Homo sapiens: one gene and its partners. The protein of the gene in region 1 interacts with the protein of each later gene in a pairwise test. Each region holds a gene or a part of one and is shown in the gene's direction. Other genes may lie near its edges.

Region 1 (7,942 bases):
ATTGCAGGCGAGAGCTACTGTGCCCAGCTTATTGGTTTTTGTGATTTTTGTTTTTAAATTTTATTTTTTGTAGCACTTTATTTTTATGGTTTTACCAAAATATCAGTCCATGATGAACAAATAAAAGAACAAAAGAATGTACTCTCGGATGGTATATTAGACCATTCTCACATTGCTGGAAAGAAATACCTGACGCTGGGTAATTTATAAAGAAAGATTAATTGGCTCACGGTTCTCCTGGCTGTACAGGAAGCACAGTGTTGGCACCCGCTTCTGGGGAGGCCTCAGGAAACTTTTACTCATGGCGGAAGGTGAAAGAGGAGCAGGCACGAAGCAAGAGGGGAGTGTGAGTGGTGGAGAGATGCCACATCTCACTAGAACTCATTGTCACCACACACTTTGAAATGACCAAATCTCCCCAGAACTCACTGTCACAAAGACGGCACCAAGCCACGAGGGGTCCGCCCACATGATCCAAACACCTCCCACCAGGCCCCAGCTCCCCCGTTGGGGATTACAATTCCACAAAGGTTTGGGCAGGGATAAATATCGAAACCATATCAGGTGGTGAATCTTCCAGGAGCAGGGTGTTGGGTGGGAAGGGGCATTGGTTCTGAGGGACTGACCTGCTGTCAGTCCTCACGTAGCCACTTAGCAGCCTTAGTTTTCTCAGCTGTGAAATGGACAGAGTGCTGCGTTGAAGCTATTTTATAGAACCTAGCTCTTATAGCTGGACAAACCATGTTTCCCATCTTCCCTTCCTCTACTTCCCCTGGATTTCTTTTTTTTAATTTATTTTTTTAATTTTTTGGAGAAAAGAGTCTTAGTGTCGCCCAGGCTGGAGTGCAATGGTGCGATCTCTGCTCACTGCAACCTCCACTTCCTGGGTTCAAGTGATCCTCCTGCCTCAGCCTCCCGAGTAGCTGAGATCACAGGCATGCGCCACCATGCATGGCTAATTTTTATATTTTTAGTAGAGACGGGGTTTCACCATGTTGGCCAGGCCGGTCTCAAACTCCTGACCTCAGGTGACCCACCCACTTTGGCCTCCCAAAGGGCTGGGATTACAGGAGTGAGCCACCATGCCTGGCCTTTTTTTTTTGTTTATTTTGTTTTGAGAGAGAGTCTTGCTCTGTCACCCAGGCTGGTGTGCAACCTCTACCTCCTGGGTTCAAGCGATTCTCCTGCCTCAGCCTCCCGAGTAGCTGGGACTACAGGCACGTGCCACCACAGCAGGCTAATTTTTTGTATTTTTAGTAGAGACGGGGTTTCACCATGTTAGCCAGGCTGGTCTCGATCTCCTGACCTCAAGTGATCCATCCACCTGGGCCTCCCAAAGTGCTGGGATTACAGGCGTGAGCCACTGCACCCGGCCTAATTTTTGTATTTTTAGTAGAGACAGGTTTTTGCCATGTTGGCCAGGCTGGTCTTGAACTCCTGACCTCAGGTGATCCGCCTGCCTCGGCCTCCCAAAGGGCTGGGATTACAGGTGTGAGCCACCGTGCCCGGCCGTGGTAACTGTTGATAGGGAATGTGAGGTAGGTACTGTGGTAGGAAAATTAGGGCCCCTCACGGTGCACCCTGAACCTGATTTCTCTTTACTGCAGCGGCCACCATGCTGCCACTGGGCTCAGAGCCCGCCCTGAATGAGCTGCTGCTTCGCAAGGAGGAGGAGTGGAGGGCGCTGCAGGCACACCGCACCCAGCTGCAGGAGGCGGCTCTGCAGGACACACGGAGCCAGCTGGAGGAGGCGCAGGGGAAACTGCGGTGCCTGCAGGAGGACTTTGTCTACAACCTTCAGGTGCTGGAGGAGCGGGACCTCGAGCTGGAGCGCTATGACGCCGCCTTCGCCCAGGCCAGGGAGTGGGAAGAGGCCAGGCGGGCAGAGGTGAGCGAGCTCAAGATAGAGGCAGCTAAGCTGAGGCAGGCGCTAGCCAGAGAGGCCAGGAAGGTGGAGGAGCTGCAGCAGCAGCAGCAGCTGGCATTCCAGGAGCATCGCCTGGAGCTGGAGCGCGTCCACAGGTGAGCCACCGACCGACGCGCCCTCCTGTGCAGTGCCTGGCAGAGGCCCCCACATGCCTCCTGCTCCGCTGTGCTGCCCGAGCACTGCCCACTCTCACTGCCCCTCCTCCCGCTGCTGATTCCAGGCCACGGGAGCTGGTCTGTCTGAGTGGCCGAGTGCCTCGTGGCCTCTGAACATGTGTTTGTTGAGTTAATGTGGATGGATCCAGGAATGCCCTGACTGTCTTTTTCTGGGTTCTGATATAACTCTGAAATTAATGGAGATTGGTTTTAATATTTGGAATTTATTTCATTAATTATAAATCTATATTAATACATATTTGAATTTATAATGATTTTAATGGAAGTCTGTAGTAATTTCAAAACTAAATGAGCTGACTTAAGGCAAGTCGACATAAAAACCTAAAGCCTTTGTTGTGGGGCCTGTGGTGGGGCCCCTGGAACTCAACCACATGCCTGGTATCCCCTCAGCTCCACTCACCCAGCCATGCTGTGGAGAGTTTGAGGAGACAGGAAGGAAGGAGGACAGGCTTCTCTGATAAGCTCTTCCATCCCCCACTTCAGAAGTACCGCAGGTTCATCATAGCACATTAACAGAGGCCCTTCCTGTGTGATGCGTGTGTACAGACGTTAGGAGAGCCGGCTGCATGCTCTGTTTACACTTAACAGGATCCTGGGTACTTTTTTTATGTTTTATGTATTCTTCTAACATAAGCAGCATTTTTTTTCTTTTCTTTTTTTTTGAGACAGAGTTTTTAGCTGTGTTGTCCAGGCTGGATCGCAGTAGCGTGATCTCGGCTCGCTGCAACCTCCATCTCCCGGGTTCAAGTGATTCTCCTGCCTCAGCCTCCCACGTAGCTGGGACTATAGGTGCCCACCACCACGCCCGGCTAATTTTTTTTTCTTTTGTATTTTTAGTAGAGACGGGGTTTTGCCATGTTGCCCAGGCTGGTCTTGAACTCCTGACCTCAGGTGATCCACTGGCCTTGGCTTCCTGAAGTGCTGGGATTATAGACGTGAGCTACCGCGCCTGGCCATAAGCAGCTTTTTAAAGCACTTTTTAAAGCCGCAGGAGTAAACTATTCTTATCATAGAAAGTCATTTCTCAGAGAAGATACTGTGGTGGAATGGCGAAGTGAAAGCCGCCACGGGCAATCTGTTGTGTCATCTCCAGGCCCCATATAGAGCCACCTGCGCACACTGCTCCGAAATGTGCGTCCAGCACTTCCTGATCGATTTGTGGTGTCTGTCCTTCGTGTCAGTGCGCTGGGTTCTGCCACGCCCTTTTAACTGACCAGCTACCCTCTGTTGTGTGTGTTGGGCCGGTTTGCTCAGAAGGGTCTCAGATGGGTGTGAACGGGCCAACAGGACCACACCAGGTGCTCCGGTCCAGCAGAGAGACCTTCTGCGGCAGGTCAGGTGCAAGGAGAGGAGACCCACATTGGTGGGTGTGGTGCCCCTCTAGCTCAGAAGCCCCAACCAGTATTGTGCAGCCAGTATCTCCTGTAGCAGCCCGCAGGGATCGCGTCTGCAGTCCCTGCAGCAGATGTACCCTGAGCGCCACCGTCTTCTGGGAAGCCCACAGTGTTGATGGTCCCTCTCTCTATCGCATCTCGCGGCGTGGATAAAAAGTGCCAGTCAGCAGTCATTTGACCCACGCAGTGCTGCTTGCTAATGTGGTAGACACCCGTGTGCCACCTGCCCAGTGTCCAGGGAAAGAGAGAGTTGAGCTGGAGGTCAGCTTCTCCCTGAGTGGAGGGAGGGTGTCTGGAAGCTCCCGTCCCCAGCATGAAGGCTGGTGCTCAGCCTGCACCTCGTCTGGGCGCCGAGTCCGTGCAGGTGCGTGCAGTGCTTGGACAGCTGAGGCCCACTTGCCCGCCGTGCGGGTGCTGACTTTCTCATAGCTGCTTTCCAGAGTGTTTACAGCATCCTTTTAAAAGTGCTTTACGTTATGTTGTGAAGTGTCTCTTCAAGTCTTTTGCTCATTCTTCTCTCCAAACCTGGGATGTTTTCAGCCATGTTCAGGTACTTTTTCAGTCTCACACTCTTTTTTTTTTTTTGAGACAGAGTCTTGCTCTGTCGCCCAGGCTGGAGTGCAGTGGCGCGATCTCGGATCACTGCAACCTCTGCCTCCGGGGTTCAAGGGGTTCTCCTGCCTCAGCCTCCCGAGGAGCTGTCACTACAGGTGTGTGCCACCATGCCCGGCTAATTTTTGTATTTTTAGTGGAGATGGGGTTTCACCATGTTGGCCAGGCTGGTCTTGGACTCCTGACCCCGGGTGATCCACCTGCCTTGGCCTCCCAAAGCGCTGGAATTACAGGCGTGAGCCACCACACCCAGCCTGCTATAGCTTTTTCTTTGCTGAGATTTGTTTTTCCATTTGCTTTACTAGATTACTTGAAGCGCTTTTATAATGACTGCTGTAGCTTCCTTGTTGAAGAATTCCAGCGTCTGTGTCATCTTGGTGTTGGCATCTACCTATTATCTTTTCTCCTTCAAGCTCAGATCTTTCTTTTTTTTCCTTTTTCTTTTTTTTTTTTTTTTTGAGATGGAGTCTCGCTCTGTCGCCCAGGCTGGAGTGCAGTGGCACGATCTCAGCTCACTGCAAGCTCCACCTCCCGGGTTCACGCCATTCTCCTGCCTCAGCCTCCCGAGTAGCTGGGACTACAGGCGCCCGCCACCACGCCCGGCTAATTTTTTTTGTATTTTTTTGTAGAGACGGGGTTTCACCGTGTTAGCCAGGATGCTCTCGATCTCCTGACCTTGTGATCCGCCCACCTCGGCCTCCCAAAGTGCTGGGATTACAGGCGTGAGCCACTGGGCCTGGTCAGATCTTTCCGGTTTTTGGTTGTCAGGTTTTTTTTTTAATTGTATCCTGGACATTTTGGGTTTTATGTTGTGAGACTCTGGGCCCTATTTAATTTCCTCTTTTATAGATGGGTGTAGCATGCTGGTCCAGGTGGGGCTGGAAGTTCTGCTACCCCGTGGGTCCTGCTGAAGCCACCCCTTCATAAAAGCAAAGCACCAACTTTCACATGTCAAGTGCACCTTGAAAATGTATTACCTTTGCTGAATATTTGGTATGGCTTTTCTTAATGCTGTTTTATTACCATAGTGACAAGAATGGTGAGATTGACCACCACCGGGAACAGTATGAAAATCTAAAATGGACACTGGAGAGAAAACTTGAGGAGCTCGACGGTGAGCTTGCTCTGCAGAGACAGGTAGAGCCTCTGGGTCGGCCCCTTCCTGGGTGCTTTCCCTGCCTGCCCACTGTGAAACTGAAATCATATAGGGCTGAGGAAAAGACAACCATTTGGTTCATTGCCTGCATTCTCCTTGGGAGTAAAATGGGGTCTTTGGGGCAGATGCCACTCTGGGATGGTCTGCAGGGAAACAGGATGGGATGTCTACATGCAGCCACCTCCACAGTGTTTCCTTGTTTTCTTTCCTCATGGATTAGTCAGGGTTCTCCAGGGAAACAGGCAATAGGAGACGTGTAGATATATAGGAGATAAATTGTAGGAATTCACTCGTGCAGTTACGGAGGCCATGAAGTCCCACAGTTTGTCATCTGCAAGCTGGAAAACCTGGGAAGCTGGTGGTGTAATTCAGCCCAGGGGCAAAGGCCTGAGCACCAGGGAGCCACTGATGTGAGTCCTGGTCCAGCTCTGAAGGCCCAAGATGCAGGAGCCCAATGTCCAAGGGCAGGAGAAGGCGAGTGTCTCAGCTCAAGCAGAGAGAGCGAGTTCACCCTTCCTTGCATTTCGTTCTATTCAGGCCCTCAGTGGATTGAATGACGCCCATCCACAGGAGGAGGGCTAGTCTCTTCTGGAAACACCCTTGCAGACACTCCCAGAAATAATTTTTTACCAGCTATCCGGGCAGCCCGTAGCCCAGTCATTTGACACATGGAATTAACCAGCACACCTCAGAAATGATGAAACTTTTAAATTTATTTTTAGAAAGGTATAATTTTAAAAACATGAATTATTTACTATGGAAAAGAATTTGGAATTCAATTATGATAAGTTTAAAAACAGATGCTTCAACTGAAAAGTGGCAGTCACCGAATTTCTCCTCAATGTTCTGGAAACTCAGCCTACACCTCCAAGAGACTCAGCTGTGCTGGGGTTTTGTTGAAAGACATCCTATAGATTTATATCTAGAGACCACAGTCAGAGATGCTGCCACTGTGTGCATATGTGACAAGGGGCTGCATCTCTGCAGGTTTACGTGTGATGAGGGGCTGTGCCTGTGCAGGTGCAGGTGTCATGAGGGGCTGCGTCTCTGCAGGTGCAGGTGTCACGAGGGGCTGCGTCTCTGCAGGTGTCATGAGGGGCTGCGTCTCTGCAGGAGTCACGAGGGGCTGCGTCTGCAGGAGTCACGAGGGGCTGTGTCTCTGCAGGTGCAGGAGTCATGAGGGGCTGTGTGTCTGCAGGTGCAGGAGTCACGAGGGGCTGCGTCTCTGCAGGAGTCACGAGGGGCTGCATCTCTGCAGGAGTCATGAGGGGCTGCGTCTGCAGGAGTCACGAGGGGCTGAGTCTCTGCAGGAGTCACGAGGGGCTGCGTCTCTGCAGGTGCAGGAGTCACGAGGGGCTGCGTCTCTGCAGGTGCAGGAGTCACGAGGGGCTGCGTCTCTGCAGGTGCAGGAGTCATGAGGGGCTGCGTCTCTGCAGGAGTCACGAGGGGCTGCGTCTCTGCAGGTGCAGGAGTCATGAGGGGCTGCGTCTCTGCAGGTGTCCTGAGGGGCTTCTTCTGTGAAGGTGCAGGTGTGATGAGGGGCTGCGTCTCTGCAGGTGCAGGTGTAATAAATGGCTCTGTCTATGCAGGTAGGTGTAAGTGTTACTAGAAGCTGTGTCTATGGGGGTGTCATAAGGGGCTGCGTCTGTGCAGGTGCAGCAGTGATGAAGGGCTTTGTGCAGGTGTGACAGGGTCCCCTCTCTGGTCCTGTCGGATGTTGGGAGCTTGGTCATAGTAGGATAGGCCAGTGTGTCACTAATTTGCCACAGTCAGGTCAGCAGAGAAGGAGGCCACGCTCACGTCATGATGGGCCCTCCTGTGGACTGTCCAGTTGTCCCCGGAAGTGCTGAGCTCACTCCCGTTGTTCACAGGTCCCTGAGGCTGCTTCTGAAATGGCCTGCAGAGGACTTTCTCTTGGAATTCTCAGAAACCAAAGAGCTTTGTCGATTATGGATGAGTTTGAGAACAGCCGGAGTTCTTTAGGCATGAAGCCAGCGTCTAAAATCCGTGGTCAGTAAGAGACCAGTGGTGACTTTTCTAAGTAGTGAGGCTTCCTCAAGTGGCTCCAAAGTCACTTCCAAAGAAGGAGTTTGAGGAGGATCCAGCTGTGGGTGGTCCTGCCCAGCAGGTGGGGGGCTCTTGGCAGCATCTGGGGACAGTGGCGATTTGAGGCTGGTTGTAGTTGGCAGGGCGCAGCCATTCTTGTCAGAGTTTCTGGCTGGGCCGTGACTATGGCTGACTTCCCAGGCTGTCCACGCCGAATTTCTCAGACTCAGCAGGGCTCGTTCAGGGAGAGCCATCTCAGACGTTGGGAACATGGATTTTTTATCATGTTCAGATAGTATCCTTGTCTCTGGAAAGAAGGAAACGTGACGTTTTAACGTGGCAGCTTTGGTTACTAGGGGAAACTTGGGCAGCACACATCCGGTGTGGTTCTGGGTAGTCCGATCCTGTGTGGGCTCTGGGATGCTGGCACTGGCTGTCGGGAAGCTCTGTTCTACTGCCGGCATCTCAGCCTTTTAGTTACTAAGCTAGGGTCTTACGTGCTTGTCAGTTTCATGGTTTCCTTTGCTCTGATTTCTTGTCTTGTTTTGGAAGATCTTGGTGTTTGTTATTGTCAGAGGTAGAATTGACTCAATGGAGATAAGGATTTTTCTTTTTCTTTTCTTTTTTTTTT
Region 2 (5,106 bases), on another chromosome or scaffold:
AAAGTGGCCCAGGAGTAAGTGGCAGCCAGACGGTGGTGGCGGGGCCTATCTGGCCAGGCAGAGGGAGGGTGAGGCTGAGGCCAGCAGTGGGGAGGAAGAAGAGAGAAGGAGAGACAGGGAGGGCAGGGCCAGAAGCAATGGGAGACAGGCCTTGGACCAAGGAAAGAGACGGGGTGGAGAAGGAGAGAGAGAGGGTGGAGACAATAGGGAGGCAGGCACAGAGGAGAAAGAGGGGTGGAGGGAGCCAGGACCTCACCGAAGGCCTCCTCAGCCCTGGAATTTAGATGCAGTCGGGCATGGGGTGGAATGTTCTGGACTTTTGGGTATGAAGCCGTGTCCCCTGCTGGGCCTTCCCACCTTTTTGCATCTCTTCTCCTAGGAGTGCTCCTGACCATCACCTTCATGCCTGGGGCTCGCCCCTTGCCTCTGGTCTTGGTACCCCAGAATACCCTGGCCTGGATGCAGCTGGATGCAAAGGCCCCAGCTCACCCCAGGCCTCTCCAGCTTCTAGGCAGAGTGGGGCCTGGGTCTAGGCAGGTATTAGGGGCTGGGCTGGAGTTTCATTAACACAGGGGGTGGGTTCAAGGCCTGATTTCCACTACCTGCCGTGTAGGCTTGCCTGGGACCCTGTGATGGGCTCTGAAGGCCCATCTGAGGGTCCGCCCTTCATGCCTGGGCCTGGGAGGCCTGGGTATCCTTGGGGTCCTGGGACACAGTCCCTGCCTACCCTCCTCACCAGTCCTCACCACCTCTCTCCCCTGCAGCTGGCTGATGGTGTGAACTCGGGCCAGGGCCTGGGCATCGAGATCATCGGGACCCTCCAGCTGGTGCTATGCGTGCTGGCTACTACCGACCGGAGGCGCCGTGACCTTGGTGGCTCAGCCCCCCTTGCCATCGGCCTCTCTGTAGCCCTTGGACACCTCCTGGCTGTGAGTCAGGGGCCCTCCCAGATGGAGGTGGGGGAAGGGAGGGCGGGGGCTGGTGGGGTGCCCTGCCATGGGCAGCCAGTGGGACTCCCGACAGGGCTCTTGCCATTGGGTGGAGGATGGCGGGTCAGCGCTGGGGGCTGGGGGCAGGGTCCTGCCCTGGAGAGGAGCACAGGGACCTCCTGCCCAGCTTGGGGTCAGCACTCCTCTTTCCCTGGGTCTCATTGTCCCCCACCCTGATTGTTCTCTTTCTCCCTCCAACCTCTCCCTCCTCTCACTCTCTCTTCACCTATGACTCTCTGCCTTCGCCCCTCCCTCTGTTTCTTTCCCTCACAGATTGACTACACTGGCTGTGGGATTAACCCTGCTCGGTCCTTTGGCTCCGCGGTGATCACACACAACTTCAGCAACCACTGGGTAGGAGACCCACGGGGGGTGGGGTGGGAAGCTTTGGTGTCCCATGGTAAGCCTGACCCCACCCTCACAGTGTCCCTTCCTGTTCTGGAGGCTCTGGGAGACAGCCAGAGGACAGGAAATCAGGAAACTGAGGCCTGCCATGTAGAGGCAGGCTGGGGGTCACACTGCCAGCACTTTCAGGCCTAGTCTCTGCCCTCCCAGCTCGGCCCTGCCCCATGCTGCCTGGCCTCCAGGTCTTCCCAGCTGCGTGGTTAAAAGTGGGGCTCCAAATCCTGGCTCAGCCACTTTCGGGTTTAGCATGACCTTGCGCAGTGTGCTTGAGCTTTGGTTTCCTGAGCTGCGGAGGGGGATATGGTGGTGCCCACCTCTCAGGGTGGCCGAGAAGAGGAAAGGGCTCACTCCCCATCTGTAAACTGAGCTCAACACAGAGGAGGCGCTCAGTGGATTTTAGCTCTTATGGTTGTGGATGTGGATGTGCTAGGCCAGCTTTGCATTAGACAATGGTCTCTGGGGCCCTTCCAAAGCTGGGAGTGTGGGGGCAGTGGCCTTCCTCAAGAAGGGGCTGCTACTGCCCATGCCTGAGCTGGGCCCCACAGAGGCAAGGAGTTGACCCTACCACGTACTCTGGCCTGGGCCGGTTCTGAGGGGCACCGGAATCATGATGTTAGGATTTGGCTCTCCTACCTGCCTCCATCCCAGGTGGGAAAAACCTGTCCAACGGGGTGGTGGGCTGTGGGGTAACCTAGGGAACGCTTCCCAGGGGCTTTTGAGTGGAGCCCTCTGAACACACCTGCTCTGTTCCTAGATTTTCTGGGTGGGGCCATTCATCGGGGGAGCCCTGGCTGTACTCATCTACGACTTCATCCTGGCCCCACGCAGCAGTGACCTCACAGACCGCGTGAAGGTGTGGACCAGCGGCCAGGTGGAGGAGTATGACCTGGATGCCGACGACATCAACTCCAGGGTGGAGATGAAGCCCAAATAGAAGGGGTCTGGCCCGGGCATCCACGTAGGGGGCAGGGGCAGGGGCGGGCGGAGGGAGGGGAGGGGTGAAATCCATACTGTAGACACTCTGACAAGCTGGCCAAAGTCACTTCCCCAAGATCTGCCAGACCTGCATGGTCAAGCCTCTTATGGGGGTGTTTCTATCTCTTTCTTTCTCTTTCTGTTTCCTGGCCTCAGAGCTTCCTGGGGACCAAGATTTACCAATTCACCCACTCCCTTGAAGTTGTGGAGGAGGTGAAAGAAAGGGACCCACCTGCTAGTCGCCCCTCAGAGCATGATGGGAGGTGTGCCAGAAAGTCCCCCCTCGCCCCAAAGTTGCTCACCGACTCACCTGCGCAAGTGCCTGGGATTCTACCGTAATTGCTTTGTGCCTTTGGGCACGGCCCTCCTTCTTTTCCTAACATGCACCTTGCTCCCAATGGTGCTTGGAGGGGGAAGAGATCCCAGGAGGTGCAGTGGAGGGGGCAAGCTTTGCTCCTTCAGTTCTGCTTGCTCCCAAGCCCCTGACCCGCTCGGACTTACTGCCTGACCTTGGAATCGTCCCTATATCAGGGCCTGAGTGACCTCCTTCTGCAAAGTGGCAGGGACCGGCAGAGCTCTACAGGCCTGCAGCCCCTAAGTGCAAACACAGCATGGGTCCAGAAGACGTGGTCTAGACCAGGGCTGCTCTTTCCACTTGCCCTGTGTTCTTTCCCCAGGGGCATGACTGTCGCCACACGCCTCTGTGTACATGTGTGCAGAGCAGACAGGCTACAAAGCAGAGATCGACAGACAGCCAGGTAGTTGGAACTTTCTGTTCCCTATGGAGAGGCTTCCCTACACAGGGCCTGCTATTGCAGAATGAAGCCATTTAGAGGGTGAAGGAGAAATACCCATGTTACTTCTCTGAGTTTTAGTTGGTCTTTCCATCTATCACTGCATTATCTTGCTCATTCTTCAGTTCTCTACTCCCTCTTGTCAGTGTAGACACAGGTCACCATTATGCTGGTGTATGTTTATCAAAGAGCACTTGAGCTGTCTGAAGCCCAAAGCCTGAGGACAGAAAGACCCTGATGCAGGTCAGCCCATGGAGGCAGATGCCCTTGCTGGGCCTGGGGGTTTTCCAAGCCCTCAGCTGGTCCTGACCAGGATGGAGCAAGCTCTTCCCTTGCTCATGAGCTCCTGATCAGAGGCATTTGAGCAGCTGAATAACCTGCACAGGCTTGCTGTATGACCCCTGGCCACAGCCTTCCCTCTGCATTGACCTGGAGGGGAGAGGTCAGCCTTGACCTAATGAGGTAGCTATAGTTGCAGCCCAAGGACAGTTCAGAGATCAGGATCAGCTTTGAAGGCTGGATTCTATCTACATAAGTCCTTTCAATTCCACCAGGGCCAGAGCAGCTCCACCACTGTGCACTTAGCCATGATGGCAACAGAAACCAAGAGACACAATTACGCAGGTATTTAGAAGCAGAGGGACAACCAGAAGGCCCTTAACTATCACCAGTGCATCACATCTGCACACTCTCTTCTCCATTCCCTAGCAGGAACTTCTAGCTCATTTAACAGATAAAGAAACTGAGGCCCACGGTTTCAGCTAGACAATGATTTGGCCAGGCCTAGTAACCAAGGCCCTGTCTCTGGCTACTCCCTGGACCACGAGGCTGATTCCTCTCATTTCCAGCTTCTCAGTTTCTGCCTGGGCAATGGCCAGGGGCCAGGAGTGGGGAGAGTTGTGATGGAGGGGAGAGGGGTCACACCCACCCCCTGCCTGGTTCTAGGCTGCTGCACACCAAGGCCCTGCATCTGTCTGCTCTGCATATATGTCTCTTTGGAGTTGGAATTTCATTATATGTTAAGAAAATAAAGGAAAATGACTTGTAAGGTCCTTCAGGCTTCCTGTAGTTTTTCTTCTTTTGATGCTGTGTCCCCACAAATGTTTCTGGATTACTCCACAAGGAAATCAGGCCACTGCTAGAGACCCAGTCTGAGGAGGAGCCACTGCCTCCCCTTCTGCCTTCAAGACCCCTGATCTCAGGCAATGGATACAGCCACACCACAGAACCCCATCTGAGGGACACAGGGTCCTGCCCCTAGTAGGAGACTTCCAGAGCCCAGTGGGATGACTTTGGAGACCTGGGGGCAGGGAAAAGGGGCAGGCTTCTGATCAGTTTAAATGGACCGATGGGAGCCATTTCTGATTCCGGAGTATGGAAGGGATGGGGGAAAGCAGGGCTGAAGTCTAACAGCCCCCTCATCCCCTCTACCCTCCACAGAGCAGGGCCCAGGGAACACTAGGGATTGCTCCACCTTCCTCCCTCCCTCCACTCACATTTGCAACCCATCTGACCTGGGCTGGGCGTCTCATGGGAGACAGACTCACTCATCAGAGCCCAGTGCAGTTAGGGCTACTTCAGGCTGAGACTGGGACCCTGGCTCCTGACCCTCCCGACGTGCACACACACTTAGTAGTGCCTGATAATAGGGAACAGGTATCACCACGGCAGTGGGCTGAGGCAGGAAATAGTGTATGGACAGGTCCTGGGGCCCCAGCACTGCTCCTGGGAGACACATGGTTCCTGTCCCCTCTGTGGAATGCCTGGCTGATGGTGATATAAGGGGGGCTGGGTCTCAGGGAGCCAGGGGCTAGGCATCCGCAATGAAGACTGAGGCCATGTTGATGGAACAGGGTTTCTAATTTAAGTGTGCCCTGGGTCACTAGGCTGTCTAAGTCCCTGCAAATCAGTGCATCACATCTGCACACTCTTTTCCGTTCCCT
Region 3 (7,942 bases), on another chromosome or scaffold:
TGTCACATTTTACAGGACTCATTTCACCTGCAGATTCACACCCACTCTGGAGGTGTGGCACCCCTTGCATGCTGGCTTCCAGGGGTCCATTGGGCAGGGATTATTGCAGCCACAGGCACCTGCCATGAGGAGAGAAAAGGTGTGGATGCCCTTGAACCTTCTGTCTCTTGCAAAGAGACACCAATGTCACACAAAACAAGAGGGTGAAGAGTGATGCTTCTGTGCCCTGCACCCCAACAAGGCCACTTTTTTTGTTTGTTCGTTTTGAGACAGTCTCGCTCTGTTGCCCGGGCTGGAGTGCAGTGGCGCGATCTCCACTCACTGGGACCTCTGCCTCCTGGGTTCAAGCGATTCTCCTGCCTCAGCCTCCCGAGTAGCTGGGATTACAGGCACCTGCCACCACGCCCGGCTAATTTTTGTATTTTTAGTACAGACAGGGTTTCTCCATGTTGGCCAGGCTGGTCTCGAACTCCTGACCTCAAATGATCTGCCCACCTCGGTCTCCCAAAGTTCTGGGATCACAGGCCTGAGCCGCCCTGCCTGGCACAAGACCACTTTTGTTTTGTATGTTCCCCTTGGTGGCATTACATCAATAAGCCATAGTTTATTTCCCCTGAAGACATGTATTTGACTGATGCTGAGTTGCACAGCCTGGGTAGACATTCCCTTGCCTCCTGGGCTGAGTCTGTGTGGCCCTCACAAAGGCTCCAGTCCAGCCTGAGGCATGAGGGAGGGGCCCCAGCAGCCATCTTAGAGAGTTTAGTCTTTGTCGAGTCCAGTGGAGCCAATAAAGGCTTGTGATACACGTAGGGGTCCATCTGGTACCTACTATTTTTTTCCCTTTTCAATTTTTTAATTTTTTTTTTTTGAGACGGAGTCTTGCCCTGTCACCCAGGCTGGAGTGCAGTGGTGTGATCTTGGCTCACTGCAACATCTGCCTCCCAGGTTCAAGCGATTCTCCTGCCTCAGCCTCCCAAGTAGCTGGGACTACAGGTGTCTGCCACTACACCTGGCTAATTTTTTTTTTTGTTTTTTTAGTAGAGATGGGGTTTCACTATGTTGGCCAGGCTGGTCTCAAACTCCTGATCTCGAACTCCTGATCTTGTGATCCGCCTGCCTCAGCCTTCCAAAGTGCTAGGATTACAGGTGTGAGCCACTGTTGCTTAAACCCAGGAGTTCGAGGCTGCAGTGCGCTGTGATGGCACCGCTGTACTCCAGCCTGGGTGGCAGAGCGAGACCCTGTCTCCAGAAAAAAAAAAAAAGATTTCAGAGAGCAGCCTGGCACCTGAGCGGTGGGGGGGGGGCTGCAGAATTTGTGGGGCCCCAGCGAAGCCACCGAGTAACGCGGAGCTGGGTCAGCCCTGACCGCTTACAGCCCGGCCGTGCTGGCACTCCATGATGTGCTGAAGCAGCAGCTGAGCCTGACGCAGCAGTTCATCCAGGCCAGCCGGCACCTGCACGCCTCCCTCCTGCGCTCCCTGGACGCGGACTCCTTCCACTACCACACCCTGGAGGAAGCCAAAGAGGTGAGCGCAGCTCCCCATGGGCAGGGGCAGGGCAGTAGGGGAGCGGCAGCTCCCAGAGGCCGGGCCGAAGGGATATGGGCCGGGGCCTGGGCTCCAGCGCTCAGCCCAGGGCTGCAGGGATGCAGTGGGGCCATCACCTGTCCCTGTGGAGGGAGCCTCATTTCCTGCCACCCTGTGGCAAAAGCTGGTACAGGGTGGGGTGCTGAGCTCCTGCACCTTGCAGCCAGCCCCGCCTGGGCTGTGTGACCTCAGACTAAAGGGACCTACTGTTCGTGGCACTGTTTTCTCCCATGGGAGGGGTCCTGTCCCTTTCCCTGAGCCTCCTGAGACATCCCCGAGATGGGGCCAGAGGCGGCCCAGCTGTTCTCCTCAGCAATCACCCTCACCTCTTTTTTTACCCTCTAAGAATTTTTATCTGATTACCAGCCAGGTGCCGTGGCTCACACCTGGTGCTTTGGGAGGCTGTGATGGGTGGATCACTTGAGGTCAGGCGTTTGAGACCAGCCCGGCCAACGTGGTGAAGCCCCATCTCTACTAAAAATACAAAAATTAGCCAGGATGGTGACGGGCGCCTGTAGTCCCAGCTACTCAGGAGGCTGAGGCAGGAGAGTCGCTTGAACCTGGGAGGTGGAGGTTGTAGTGAGCTGAGATCGTGCCACTGCACTCCAGCTCGGGTGACGAGCAAGACTCCGTCTCAAAAAAACTTTTTAAAATCTGATTACCAAAAATTACGTGGCTGTTTTCTGAAAATCTTGTTGCAGAGATGTGTAACCTGCAAGTTCTCCTTAATTTCAGAGGTAACTATTACCAAGCTGATATATATACTCCTTCAGACTCTTGTATGAACCATAGTATGCGTATTTCTTTTTTTTAAAATTTTTTTTTGACGGAGTTTTGCTCTTGTTGCCCAGGCTGGAATGCAGTGGTGTGATCTCAGCTCACTGCAGCCTTCGCTTCCTGGGATCAAGCGATTCTTCTACCTCAGCCTCTCAAGTAGCTGGGATTACAGGTGCCTGCCACCATGCCCAGCTAATTTTTGGGATTACAGGTGCGAGCCACCATGCCTGGCCACGTATTTCTTTATAGAAATGGCATTATACTATATGCAGTCCTTTATGGTGATCTATTCATAAACTTTTTTTTTTCTTTTGAGACTGAGTTTCACTCTTGTTGCCCAGGCTGGGGTGCAATGGTGCAATCTCAGCTCACTGCAACCTCCGCCTCCTGGGTTCAAGTGATTCTCTTACCTCACCTTCCTGAGTAGCTGTGATTACAGGTGCGAACCACCATGCCCAGCTAATTTTTCATATCTTTAGTAGAGACAGGGTTTCTCCATGTTGGTCAGGCTGGTCTTGAACTCCCGACCACAGGTGATCCACCTGCCTCGGCCTCCCAAAGTGCTGGGATTATAGGCGTGAGCCACCGCCCCCTGCTTTAAACATTTTACATAACAAATTTTTCAGTGTTTATTTCTAAAAAGTGATGTTAAAGCCAGGTGTGGTGGTTCATTCCTGTAATCCCAGCACTTTGGGAAGCTGAGGCAGGGTGGGTCGCTTGAGCCCAGGAGTTCATGACCAGCCTGGGCAACATAGCAAGACTCCATCTCTATTAAAAAATACAAGAAAACTAGTTTAAGTTTAGCATAGTGGTGTGTGCCCGTAGTCCCAGCTCTCTGGGAGGCTGAGGTGGGAGGATCACTTGAGCTGGGGAGGTTGAGGCTGTAGTGAGGGAGAAAGCGGGACTCTGTCTCAAACAAACAACCATAATGCAATAATACACAAACCAAATTTACTAAGTATCAAGGAATATCCAGTGTTGAGATTTCTGCTTGTCTGATTTAAAGTTGTGTGTTTTGTTCCGATTTGGTAATTCGGATCCAAAGTCCATACTATCCGATATGTCCTTTGAGCCTCTTAATCTAGAGCAGCGACCGGTTCTCAATGCTGAGCGGTTGGGGATCCCCTGGAAGCCCTGTGAAAGCGATGCTGGGCCCGCAAGCAGGCGGGGTGGGCCTGGAGCTAGGCGTTTCTCCCACATGCCCCGGGACGCTGCTTTGGAACTGTGCCGAGTCCCCTGCATGCCAGGCCTCTCGTTTCCTTGTGGTTTATCTGCTGAAGAGGGCAGGTTGTGAGTCCCACGGGTCTCTACAATGTCAACTTTGCTCATTGCAGCCCTCTGGGGGCTTTGAACTCATGCCTCTGTTGGGCGTCCATCAGCCCATCCGATGCAGGCAGAAGCCATCTGACTGTGCCACCTGGCTGCAGCCCACCATAGCTCCCAGCTGCTTGCTCCAGGCGCTTCTCCCTGATCTCAGCCACTCCAAGGGCACTCACAGGCACCCCTCCCTTTCTCTGTCAGGGCTCACCCCTCGCAGGGCTGACCCTCTACCCTGTGTTCCCACAGCCCCGTGCGCCAACCTGTCACACACATCCTGTGGTTTTACACTTCTGTCACTGACAGGAGCCTGCTGGGGACAGGTGCTGGCTCCACTCCCTCCTCCAGCACCCTGTCTCAGAGTGTACTGAGGTGACGATGGTGATGGCGTGGTCTGTTCTCTGCCTGACAGTACATTAGGTGCCACAGACCTGCCCCACTGACCATGGAGGATGCCCTGGAGGAGGTGAACAAGGAGCTGTGAGCGCCAGCAGGTGGAGCTTGACGTGACGTCTTAACAAAAGGTATCCCGTCCTGTGTACTCAGTGCACACACACGCACACAAACATAGAGCTCATCAGTGTCCAAGTGTGACGTTCCGTGGTGGGGGCAGGTGGTACTGGGGTGATGGACACACACACACACAGTCAGCATCCAGGTGTGACATTCCATGGTGGGGCAGGTGGTGCTGCGGTGAGGGCCCCAGACTCCTCTGAGCCAAATCCCAGCTCAGTGACAGCTCTCCCAGCAGCATGCCCAGCTCTATGACACCACAGGCCAGTGGAAATAGAATTTCAGTGGAGCTGTCCCCACTCACAGCAGGACAGGGGCCACCAGCCTCTGCAGAGCAGCTCCACCCAGGCAGGTCCTGGCATCCCAGTGAGCCAGAGGGAGACAGGGTGGATGGGAGAAGCCCTGCTCGAGGGTAAGGACATGGGACCAGGTCAGCACGCTGGGGACGCCATGTGAGCCCCTGGACACGGCCTCTGACCCCAGGCTGCACAGCTCAAACCAGGACATGTGTCTCCTCACTCAGCCCGTGCACACTTCTGACTTACACATGTGCGGGAGAAAGGTCTTTAAAAAAAGGCTTTATTTGAAGGCAAAACAATGAAATCCACAAGAAATTACTAACAGCACGTGTTTACGTTTTATCCTGAATCATACATTTTAACAATTCACAGCTACAGGAAATCTAGAACAAAATCAAATATTCATCACGTTGGGTTGAAAAGTTGGAAGATTTTGCATCTTATTGAAAAGAATTTTTCAAAAATGTTTCTGTACAAATGAATGGAATTGCACCAGGCTGCCCATGGACACCAGGTGTGGCCGATTCCCAACGGTCACCCACCAGCTTCTGGCAGGAGCAGCTCCCCTCCTGGCCTCCCCTCCCTTCGGGGGTGTGAAATGAAATGATGGAGTGGAAGGCGCTGGCTGGGGTCGGGCTCCATGCTCTGGATGGGACTGGGCCGTCGCACACGCCAGCCGGTGCAGGGTTCTTCCAAGTGCAAAACTCAAGCAGGGGACGCGACGGGCACAGACTCCGAGGCAGCGCTCAACCTGAAGTGTCTTAGGCTGGTTTCCTGTTAGAATCTTGTTTCCCAGATAACAGCAAATGGCTACATTCCAGAAAAAAAATATCAACTTATACAACTAAAATAACTGAACTAAGGGCCAGTACGCCTTCGAAGAATTAGGTTTCAGAATCTCACTGGGCCTCCTCTCAGGTCAGTATTCTTCTTTCTAGACCTAAACCAAGGAGAGTAAAAATGAAAACCCTGCTTCACTTCGCAAGTCAAGTCAAAGTTTTGTGTTTCTGTTTTTCAATCCGCGGGCAGTCATGGCACTGGGCTTCGGCTTTGTCCCTACACAGCCGAGGGGAAGCCAGGTCAGGGCCGGTGGGTGCGGGGAGCTGGAGGAAGGAGCTGGGGTGCCGGCTCTGGCTCAGGCCAACCCTTCCTGCACATGCTCCTCCTGGAGCCTAGGAGGAGGCTTCAATCTGACTTAGGGCAGATGCACATCCATCCCTTCGTGGCTGAAGAATTTACTCGGGCGGAGGGTCTTGTGTTTTTTGCTTCGCTATAAAGGAAAACGAGCCTGGGGCCCTGGTGGCTGCAGCGCCTCCTGGTGTGGTTTGTGGGTGGCACCCGTGCCCTCCACGCCATGGAGCACGGCGTTCCCACTGGGCATGCGCTGGTCTTCCTTCTCTTCCTGTGGCTCTCCACAAGTGGAGACGGTGTAAGAACTGAGCTGTCACTGCAATCTTCCTCTGCCAGTCAGCCAGGAAGGTCCCACAGCCGGCACCGCTGGCCACCGGCGCGGCTCCCGGCATGGGCGCCTACTTACACTCGTCCCTGGCCTTCATGCGGGCGATGAAGGAGTAGCTCTTGTTCCTGCGGTAGTTCTCATAGGGGTCATCCAGAGCCACGCCCACGCCTTTATACTGGTCCCACTTATCCCGGACGTCCCCGCCCTTGATGGGGTCCTGGATCCCTTGCTCCTTCGCACCGAGGCCGCCTGAGCCGCTCCAGCCTGGAAACAGAGACGCAGTCACAACCACAACAAGGCGGAGGCAGATGGGGGTGCACGTGGGGGGCTGAATGTCCAGACAGGCAGTGTAGACATGGGAAATGGGTAGAGAGAACCCGCAGGCCGGCCCTGTCTAGAGGGTCTGGGTGGAGTCAGAACCGGCCTGACTCCATCCATCCCCACATGCACTGAGGAAGAGAAAGCGCTGGTGACTCCCGGGCCCAGCACGCGTGAGGACCCATCCCGCGCCCTCCCCATTCCCTCGCCTTACCCATCTTCACCAGCATCTGATGGCCTTTGTTCTCTTCTCCGAGCCTTGAGTCAGGGATGGGAGGCGCCGAATTAGAACCCAGACCAGCAGAGGAACTAAAATCGAGACAGGTTATTCTTTTTAAGAAGTAACTGAGACATTTATTGGAATGACAGTGATGAGGACCTCACAGCCGCAGCTTGCGTGCATGCTCACTGTCACCAGGTGACACCGTATGCAGATTTTGCGTCTCTACCCGTTTATCCTGTCTCAGCTAGATAAGGGGGCTCCAGACGCTGGCCCCCACCCCACGCTCAGCATTGAGAGCAGGACACCTCCAACCCAGATGGTGGTTAGAAAGCAGACCCCAGTTACTGCCTCAGGCTTCGCCAAGTGGCTACTGTGGTGAAGGGTGAGGGGTGCCACTGTCCCCGGGCTAATGCTGGCGGCCTCCTAACACAGTCTCCTAACCACCAATGTTTCCACATTCACAGCAAAGCACCGCAGCTTCCCAGAGTTACCAGCGCAGCACTTAAGACAGGATCTTACGGCGGGGTGGGGCTCCTGGACCGTGACCGGCGTCTTCTTCCTGGGGAGTACGACTTGGACCGGGACCGCGACTGGGACCGGGAGCGGCTTCTGGAGGAGCGCGACCTGCTCCGACTTCTGCAGGGAAGGGTGCCCAAGGGTCAGCAGCAGCCAGGCGTCGTGGGGAGGCCACAGGAAGAGGCCTCAGGCACTGCCCTGAGGCAGCCTCTGCCTACCTAGATCTGGAGCGGGAGTAGGAACGGGAGCAGGAGCGCGACCTTGACCTTGAGTACGAGCCTGAAGACTTGGAGGATCTTGAGTTGGAGCGGGAGGAAGAACGCCCTCGACTCTTGGATCTGCTCCGAGACCTCGAGGGTCCGCTGTGGGGAGAGGCCTGATGATCAGGTGCCCCAGTGGATGGGCTGCACCCAGCCCACCCTGGCCCTCAGGTTCCTAGACCACCCCAGATGCAGGGGCTCTGGCTGTGGATGTGGCGCCATAGCCACAGCAACGGTACCAAGTTCCTAAATAGTGTGGCCGAGCCTGCTGCTGTGTGAATTCAGGCCTTGTGGAAAACACCGCCCCATAGGCACAGGCTGTGTGAGGGTGGACGTGATGAGTGTATCTGGGGTCTGCTCCCACCCATCACAAGCTGTGGACCCTGGCCCCCCGGCCACTGCAGACATCTGCGCTTTTACCTGTTCCTCTTCTCCTGGCCTTTCCTCCGCCGGGCCCGCATTTTTGCTCGGAAGAACTCATAGAGGCCGTTCTGCTCCCAGCCTTCACTGTAAGACACGGCATTCCGTGTGTGACCACGTGACACCCACCCACAAGGAAGTCGTGAAAAAGTCATCAGGAGTTAATCCACAGAACCTTGGAGAGTACATGGCCCTGTGGCTGTGGGCTCCGAGCATGGGCGCAGTAGAGCTTGGTTCAGTGTTCCCACAGGGCT
Region 4 (8,019 bases), 6.7 Mb from region 1:
CCAGAGCGGTGAGGCCAGCAGCAGCTTGACCAAGGCCCCACTGGGCAGGTTGCCAAAAACAACACAGAGGTGACAGAAGAGGGGAGTGGCTGCACTGCTGGACCTTAGGGCCCTCCCCTGGGACCTCCTTAGCACCTCCCCAGTGGCACCCACCCTGTGTCCACTTCCCTAGGCACAGAGACCACCCCACAGCTCCACCTCTCCAGGCCCTGCGTCTCCTGCCCCAGTGTGCTAGTGGATGCATGAGGTTAAGGCCCTTCCTCTGGCACCCATACCCCAGGTGTTCAGGTAGCCTGGGGGACTCCTTCCTGTGCACAGGACCGAGGTGTATCTTGGGGCTAGAGCCCCTGAACTCCAGAGGAGACCTTCCCATCCAGGGAACTCCTCCTGCCTCAGTCTGGTGGCAGGAACCACCTCCTGCCTATGCTGATCTGGGATCTCAAGGTGACAAGTCCAGCGGCCTCCTGGGACAGCCCAGAGAGCCCTCCCTGAAGCCCAGAGGTCTATTCTCCCTGTGGGGGGTCGCACCACAGAGGTACCCAAGACATGGGGCTCAGGTGTGGCCGCTTGTGCATGGATCCCCCACAGCCCGGTCAGGTCTCGAGGCTAGGTGAAAATCTCCAGTAAATGAGCTCTGGCCACACCCCACCAGGACACACATGTCAGGGGAAGAGAAACTTTAGCAACTTGTTAGAGAGTGTTGAACTTTTTTTAAGCAGTAGAATTCCCTTTTTAAAAGCTATCTCGTGGCCTGGTGCGGTGGCTCATGCCTGCAATCCTAGCACTTTGGGAGGCTGAAGCGGGTGGATCACCTGAGGTCAGGAGTTCGAGACCAGCCTGACCTAGATGGTGAAACCCCGTCTCTAGTAAAAATTAGCCAGGCGTTGTGTCAGGCACCTGTAATCCCAGCTACTCGGGAGGCTGAGGCAGAAGAATAGCTTGAACCCGGGAGGCAGAGGCTGCAGTGCGCTGAGATCATGCCACTGCACTCCAGGCCGGGTGAGAAAGCAAGACTCCGTCTCAAAAAAAAAAAACAGCTATCTTATAGATATCCTCTTAAGACACGAACATAGAGGTGCTCTGGTTGAAATGTGTGCGTTTGAGGTTGGGGGTAGGGATGAAGTTCTATCTATTCAGTCTTCTCTAACCCACTGTCAGAAATCTCATGGCTCCAAAGAACACATCAGAAAGACCATCTGCTAGAAGGCAACTCCACGAAGACAGGAATTTGGGTCTGTTTTGTTCACTACTATGATCCAGTGCTTAGAACAGAGCCTGAGCCAGGCACAGTGACTCACGCCTGTAATCCTAGTACTAGGAGGCCTACCTAGGTGGGTGGATCACTTGAGGTCTGGAGTTCGAGACCAGTCTGGTCAACATGGTGAAACCCCCATCTCTACCAAAAATATAAAAAAAAATTAGCCGGGCATGGTGGCACACACCTGTAATCCCAGCTACTAGGGAGGCTGAGGCAGGAGAATGGCTTGAACCCAGAAGGCGGAGGTTCCCGTGAGCCGAGATCCTGCCACTGTACTCCAGCCTGGGTGACAAGCTATAGGCACTCAATAACAATGTGAATGAACGTACTTCAACCCTCTAATTTTGCAGGCCAGGAAACTGCAGCCCAGAGAGGTTAAGTGACTTGCCTAAGGACACACAGCAAGGGGGACCCAACTTTCTCTCTGGCTCTCTCACACAGAGGCACTTCTTACTGAGAACAAGACAGTCCACCCTCCTCAAATATGCAGATCACAGTGACCCACCCCCACCCACCAAGCCTCTGTGAACTGAGCGCTCGGCCTCAGCGGGATGCTCGTCCCACCCGGTACTCACTTGTCTTTGTGGCCTTGACCTTCGCCACCAGTTTCTGCACACCGGTCACATCTCCATTCTTGACGGCGAGGATCAGGTCCTGTTCACGACCCATACTGGCTCCTGGGCTGAGCTCTACACTCAGGAGTCCAGGGCAAAGGCAGGCAACGGGTCCAAGCTGGGGCGTCAGGGCGCCATGCCACAGCCCCTTGGAGGGCTCCCGGTTCCGGGGGAGCAAGTCAGGTGTCCCAGGCAGTGGGCTCCTCGTCAGGTACTGAGGGATACTCCCAAAGGTGCTCCGTGAACTGCCACCACACGAAGGAAAGCTAATCTTTGAGGGGGTGAAGGCTACATGGAAATCTGGATGGATATCAGCTTGTGGCTTCCGACAGCTCCAGGATGGGCTGGGACTGGGCACACCAATCTTCCCGGCTTGGCTGTGGAACACCAGTGCCCACCCAGAGAGCAGCCAGCATTCCCTTGGGCCTCAGGCAGCAGCGGTGCACTGGTCTCAGGGCTCTGGAAAAAGCACGGGGCCTCTGTCGAATGCTGGGCCACAGCCTGCAAGGGTCCCAGAAGTGGAGTGCAGAGGATGAGCAGGACAAGACCTCCAGGGAGCCCCCAAGCCACCCTGGCTCCCCTCGGAGTCGATGGTGATGCTGAGCCACTGAAAGTGGGGAGGAAGCTGCTATGCATGAGAGGAGTATTGGTGGGGGGGAGGTGGCATTCTGGGAGGGGGAGGCTGAGTCACTGGGGCCCCAGGGCACCTGGCAGTACCTCAACCTTGGGCAGGAGGGGCCCTGGCAGCATGACATACTGGGGCAGGCCGGGCCAGCAGCCTGTTCTCCACAGCCCGAGGCTCCGACACCCACAGACAACTGGCGGGCCAGGAGGTGGGGCCGGGAGGGTCAGGCACAGGCAGGCGGGCAGGGGTCACTCCCTGTCAAAGGCACCAGCCCCCAGATTCCTCCCTACGGAGGCTTCAAGGCTTCGCTTTAATGGCTGGATGCCCTAGTCCTAGGACTCTTTGTGAACGGAGAGCATGAAGTGCTTCTGGCCCCCCATTTCTGGGGGCTCTGCCTGCTAGAGAGGGAAGCTGCACAGCACCTGTTGCTGACCCGCCCTCGCCCCTTGTGTCGGGTGGAGGAGCAGCTGGGCAGAGAACAGAGAGAGCTGGGGCACTGCTGACAAACGGGGCTCCCAAGCCCCCCAAGCCTGAACCTGAAGCCCAGACCCTGGACTCCACCGCAGAGAAGCTTACGTCAGTTTCTCGGTGGCAGCGAATTTACTGCCAGAGTCTTGTGGCATGAGATCCGCGCAGGCCTGGGGCCCTGGCCGGGAACCCCTCACTCCCCAAACGTCCCAAGCCCAACCCAGGGGCACTCCCACGCGGAGCCCGCGGCCGACACGGGCGGAGGGCGCCCTTGGCAGTGCCTGGGGTCGGGCTGGCTCCCCCGCCCCCCGGAATGTCCCTCCAGCGCCTCGCAACCCCCCAGCCCAGCCCAGCCCAGCCCAGGCCCACCGGGGAACAAAGCGGCGGGAGAAGCCGGGCGGGCCAAGCGCCCGAGGTATAAACGCGGAGGATGGAAAAAGGGGCGCGAGGAGGACGGAAGGAGCGGGGAGATGGAGGTGCCCGCCGACCCCGCAAGAAAAGTTAGTTTGCGCCCGCCCCCAGGGGCGCTGACCCCCAGCGCGGGCCCCGCAGCCTCACCTCTCCCGGCCGCCCGCCGGGGTCCGGCTGGCCCTGCTCGGTCCCTGGCACTCAGGACGGTGGCTCCCACTCCCCCCTGCCCCCCTTTCTCCTTCTCCTTTTCCAAGGCCGGCTCGGCGCCTCCCGCAGGAAATCCCGCCCCTCCCCCCTCCCTCCCGCCGGATCGGGAACGGAGGGACCGTCCCGGCCGCGCAGTCAGGCTGTCAGTCAGCACCGGCGGCTCCGCCCCCATCCGCGCCAGATCCCGCCCCAACTCGTGCCCGCCCGGACCGGGGGCGCTGACCGGATCAGCGCATGCGCCCAGGTGAAACGGAGGGGCGGGGGGCGCGGGGGCAGAGGTGACCTGGGGCTCTGGACTTAGACCCAAGGGCTAGACACCCCGGGTCTGACTGGTGGGAGAGAAGACGTAATGTGAAGGGGGTTGGCAACCAAGACGCGGGACCCCACTTGCAGTACCCCCCGTCTGCGGCCGGCGTCGCCCACCCGCAGCCGCCGGCCGGGCAATGGCACCACCTAGCGGACGGCACCAGTGCGGGGACCCCAGCCTCGAGGAGGCGCTCGTGCCGGGCGGAGGTGGCGCTTCAGCACCGTCGTGGGCCGGACAGCGCCTCCCGCCCCCGGCCCTCGAAACCTGGCTTCGGAGCCCAGCCGTAGGGACCGGACGGAAGACACCGAAGGAATGGCGAACCTCCCCGGACCGCTCCTGACAGTTCCCGGGTGGCCTTCGGCCTGCAAAGTCGGAATTTGCACACCCTCCGCTCGTCCTTCCCTGAGCCCTTCTGCCCTCCTTGCCCAGCCCGGGCGGTGGGGACTAAGCAGCGCGAGGCTGCAGAGGGGCGGTCACAAGTGTGACCATTCGCACTGCACTCCAGACGCCGGCTCCTCAGGCTTTACTGGAGAGAAGCCCCGAGGAGGGCTAGGGGCAAAAGAGGGGCCTTCTGCATCTCCAGCAACCTGCGGGCTGAGCTCCCAGACCCGGCGTCGGGGTGCGCTTCCGGGCGGGCGCTAGGACCGGGGACAATCAGGAGGGCGCAGAGCGGGCTGGGGCGGTGCAGGGGGCGGGGCTGCCGCGGCATTGCGGATCGGCGGGCACTAGGGCAGCGCGGAGCTCCGGCGGTGGGCGGGGCGTGGCGGCGCGCGCAGCGGCAGGCGGCGGCGGGATGGAGCCCGAGCCCGAGCCCGCGGCCGTGGAGGTTCCCGCGGGGCGCGTGCTCAGGTGCGGCGCGGCCCGGCCGGAGTGGGTGTCGGGGGCGCGGGGCCAGCGCGGGTAGGGAAACCGGCGCCCGGGACCCGGCCAGGCGGCCCCCGATGCGCGGCGCTGACCCCGCGTCCCCTTCTCCCCCAGCGCCCGGGAGCTCTTCGCCGCCCGCTCGCGGTCGCAGAAGCTGCCCCAGCGCTCGCATGGCCCCAAGGACTTTCTGCCCGACGGCTCGGCAGCTCAGGCCGAGCGGCTGCGCCGGTGCCGGGAAGAGCTCTGGCAGCTGCTGGCAGAGCAGCGCGTGGAGCGCCTGTGAGAGGGGCGGGCCCAGGGGTAAGGGAAGCGGGGGCGAGGCGGGCCGCGGGGTCTCCGGAATGGACTGACGCAGACCCCTCCCCACTCCTCGCCAGGGGCAGCTTGGTGGCTGCCGAGTGGAGGCCAGAAGAGGGCTTCGTGGAGTTGAAGTCTCCCGCGGTGAGCGGCGGGCTCGGGGACCGGGGACCGCCCTCCCTGCCCTCCCTGCCCTCCCTCCCTTGTGACACTTGCTCTGGGCCCCACACAGGGCAAATTCTGGCAGACCATGGGCTTCTCAGAGCAGGGCCGGCAGCGCCTTCACCCGGAAGAGGCCTTGTATCTTCTGGAGTGTGTAAGTGGGGCCCGGGAGGTGGGGAAGGAGTTGGGACCAAAGAACGGGAAGGACACGTTTTATCGGAGAAAAAGCACACACAACCCGGTCTTTAGAGAACTGATAACCAAACTTCTAAAGCAGGAGGTGGTACGTTGCAGGGAGCAGGGATTCCAGTCCACATTAGTGATGCTGCCCCACTTTCCTGGTTGGCCACATTCTTGATGCGCTGCTGAGAGGGGGAGGGGGAGGTATCAGAGCTGGGAAGTTGCCCCATTCCTCTGTGGCACTGTAGTGAGGGCTCATAAGCTGAGCTGTTGGCCCCACTTCCAGGGCTCCATCCACCTCTTCCACCAAGACCTGCCACTGTCTATCCAGGAAGCTTACCAGCTGCTGCTGACCGACCACACTGTGACCTTCCTGCAGTACCAGGTATCTGCCACCACCCCGCCTCCGGGAGCCACCCATCCACTGAATCAATGAGTATTGACAAGTACCCATAAGGTGCCAGGCACAGTGTCACATGCTGGGGCTGCAGGGCAGACGAGGGCTATGCTGTCACGAGGCTTACATTGTGGTGGTGGCCTGTTGGCTTCACATAGACCCCAGTGCTGTCAGAAGATAAGGTGGGGGAAGAGAATCCAAAGAGACTGGGCTGTTCATTCAGGTGAGAGAAGCTAGGGGCTTGTCGCAGGTTGGGGGTGGGTAGAGTTGCAGTGAGTGAAAAATAGATGAATCTCAGAAATATTTTGGAGAAAGAATGGATAGGACTGCCAATGGATTGGATGTCAGGATTAAGGAGAGAGAAGAACCCAGGATTACCGCCCATGATTTGGGCATGCACCAGTGGATGAAGGTGCTGTCATTTTCTGAGTGGGAAGAATGAAGAGGAGCAGATTTGGGAGGACAAGACCAGTCGAAAGAACTGTGTCAGATAAGTTAATTTTGAGGAGCTTCTTGGACATCCAAGTGAGTGTAAAGCAGACAGACAATTGGAATCCAAGTCTGGAGTGTGAGGAGAGGTCAAGGCTAGATGTAAATATGGGTGCCATGAGCACATGGATGGTATTTAAACTACTGGGCTGTATGGGAGTGCCATCAGAGTAGAGGGCTGGGTCTGAGCCCTGGGGCTCTCTGTGTAGGTTAGGGGGCAGATAAGAAGCAGAAACAGACCGAGGAGTGTCTGGTGATGCAGGAGAAAAACCAAAGTCGCATCACAGAAGCCAAAAGAAGGTCTTTCAAGGAGGAAGTGGTTAGCTGTGCTAAAGCCTGCTGAGATCAAGCAGGATGGGGGACATTCTTATCTATGTTCCTCTGATATGAATGCAGGGACACAAGGTTGAATATGTGGCTCCCTACCAGAAACTTCCCACCGGCATCTGTGGAGGTGTGGGGCTGGAGAGATGCCCACCACCTGCCATCATTTTGTTCACATGGTGATCGGCAGCTTCACTCCTATGAGCTTTGTATCAAAATACTCAAGTATTTCAGGGCGTGGTGGTTTTCTGGTTTCATGGCTATCAGTTTTTTTGGATTTGGCTAAATGTCATTTGTGCCGAGTAAGGTAAGTGGGAGGACAGGAATTCAGAGCCTGAGATCTTTAGGGATGGTGTTCGTAATGAAGCATGGTCCAACCTTAATCACAGGGTTTAGAATCTGGGGGTGTACAGGAGGGGCAGAGAGGGCTGTGGGGATGGCCTGTGTCTGGAGAAACCATTTGGTGTTTTCCAGAGTGGCCATCTGAGCTTTCATTTTTTTTTTTTCTTTTGAGGTCTTCAGCCACCTGAAGAGGTTGGGTTATGTGGTTCGACGATTCCAACCAAGGTAAATCCCCTTCCTGTTCCCCTTCCATATATTCTAGTCCTGGGACCTGGCTGACTAGTCTAAGGTAGAAAATGGCCTCTCCTTACCTGGAACCCTTGGCTGGAGTGCAGTTCCTTGGGCACAGACTGGGGGCGCCTGCTGGAAGCGTTCTGAGAGAGGCAGGTTGGGAGGAATCCAGGTCATTTTGTTTTATTCTGGTTTATGAACTCGAGCCGCATCTTCAGATGACCTGCGCCTGCAGCTGAGTGTGTGTGAGCACTGAGAGGCAGGATTGGAACAGTGCCTGGCACTTAGTAGGTGCGCAGGCAGGTATGTAGAGTGTATGCTTAAATGAAGGACTGGGTGAAGAATTTACCATTAGTAGGGTTTCACATTTTTCATGCCAGGTTAAATGTTTTTTCCTTCATCACCTTAGTAATCCAGCATTGGTAAAAGGCAGAGACCTTCAGACTTGGAGTGGAAACGGGTACAGCTTTTGCAGTTACAGTATGTCACAAAAGCTCTAAAGCAGGCACATCTTTTCTTTTCTTTTTGAGACGGAGTCTCACTCTGTCGCCCAGGCTGTAGTGCAGTGGCATGATCTCAGCTTACTGTAGCCTCTGCCTCCTGGGTTCAAGCAGTTCTCCTGCCTCAGCCTCCCAAGTAGCTGGGATTACAGGCGTGTGCCACCATGCCTGGCTAATTTTTTTATTTTATTTTATTTTTAGTACAGATGGGGTTTCACTGTGTTGCCCAGGCTGGTCTCGAACTCCTGACCTCAAATGATCCTCCCGCCTCAGCCTCCCAAAGTGCTGGGATTACAGGCATGAGTCACCACGCCCAGCTCTACATCTTTTCTTTTCTGAAAGT

The links.
Region 2: the proteins of CCDC57 (region 1) and AQP1 interact in binary tests that used the Homo sapiens proteins (3 or more experiments, as listed by UniProt).
Region 3: the proteins of CCDC57 (region 1) and C19orf44 interact in binary tests that used the Homo sapiens proteins (3 or more experiments, as listed by UniProt).
Region 4: the proteins of CCDC57 (region 1) and TSEN54 interact in binary tests that used the Homo sapiens proteins (3 or more experiments, as listed by UniProt).

Annotation. Positions count from the first base shown.
Region 1 is NC_000017.11:82,195,618-82,203,559, reverse strand, and holds part of CCDC57 (coiled-coil domain-containing protein 57), read left to right. Parts: intron 1-1,607; coding exon of another isoform or gene 1,608-1,615; coding exon 1,616-2,022; intron 2,023-5,135; exon of another isoform or gene 5,136-5,137; coding exon 5,138-5,246; intron 5,247-6,463; exon of another isoform or gene 6,464-7,942. UniProt on the Homo sapiens protein: Pleiotropic regulator of centriole duplication, mitosis, and ciliogenesis. Critical interface between centrosome and microtubule-mediated cellular processes. Centriole duplication protein required for recruitment of CEP63, CEP152, and PLK4 to the centrosome.
Region 2 is NC_000007.14:30,921,302-30,926,407, forward strand, and holds the end of AQP1 (aquaporin-1), read left to right. Parts: intron 1-764; coding exon 765-929; intron 930-1,262; coding exon 1,263-1,343; intron 1,344-2,148; coding exon 2,149-2,328; 3' UTR 2,329-2,525; coding exon of another isoform or gene 2,526-2,708; 3' UTR 2,709-4,215; downstream 4,216-5,106. UniProt on the Homo sapiens protein: Forms a water channel that facilitates the transport of water across cell membranes, playing a crucial role in water homeostasis in various tissues.
Region 3 is NC_000019.10:16,513,138-16,521,079, forward strand, and holds part of C19orf44 (uncharacterized protein C19orf44), read left to right. Parts: intron 1-1,359; coding exon 1,360-1,526; intron 1,527-4,092; coding exon 4,093-4,164; 3' UTR 4,165-4,204; intron 4,205-4,756; exon of another isoform or gene 4,757-6,021; coding exon of another isoform or gene 6,022-6,215; intron 6,216-6,483; coding exon of another isoform or gene 6,484-6,578; intron 6,579-6,956; 3' UTR 6,957-7,011; coding exon of another isoform or gene 7,012-7,128; 3' UTR 7,129-7,226; coding exon of another isoform or gene 7,227-7,370; 3' UTR 7,371-7,688; coding exon of another isoform or gene 7,689-7,775; 3' UTR 7,776-7,942. Other genes in the region: CHERP (calcium homeostasis endoplasmic reticulum protein), read right to left, coding at 6,022-6,215, 6,484-6,578, 7,012-7,128, 7,227-7,370, 7,689-7,775.
Region 4 is NC_000017.11:75,511,878-75,519,896, forward strand, and holds the start of TSEN54 (tRNA-splicing endonuclease subunit Sen54), read left to right. Parts: upstream 1-4,650; 5' UTR 4,651-4,683; coding exon 4,684-4,739; intron 4,740-4,868; coding exon 4,869-5,033; intron 5,034-5,131; coding exon 5,132-5,195; intron 5,196-5,283; coding exon 5,284-5,367; intron 5,368-5,679; coding exon 5,680-5,778; intron 5,779-7,117; coding exon 7,118-7,170; intron 7,171-8,019. Other genes in the region: CASKIN2 (caskin-2), read right to left, coding at 1,834-1,927.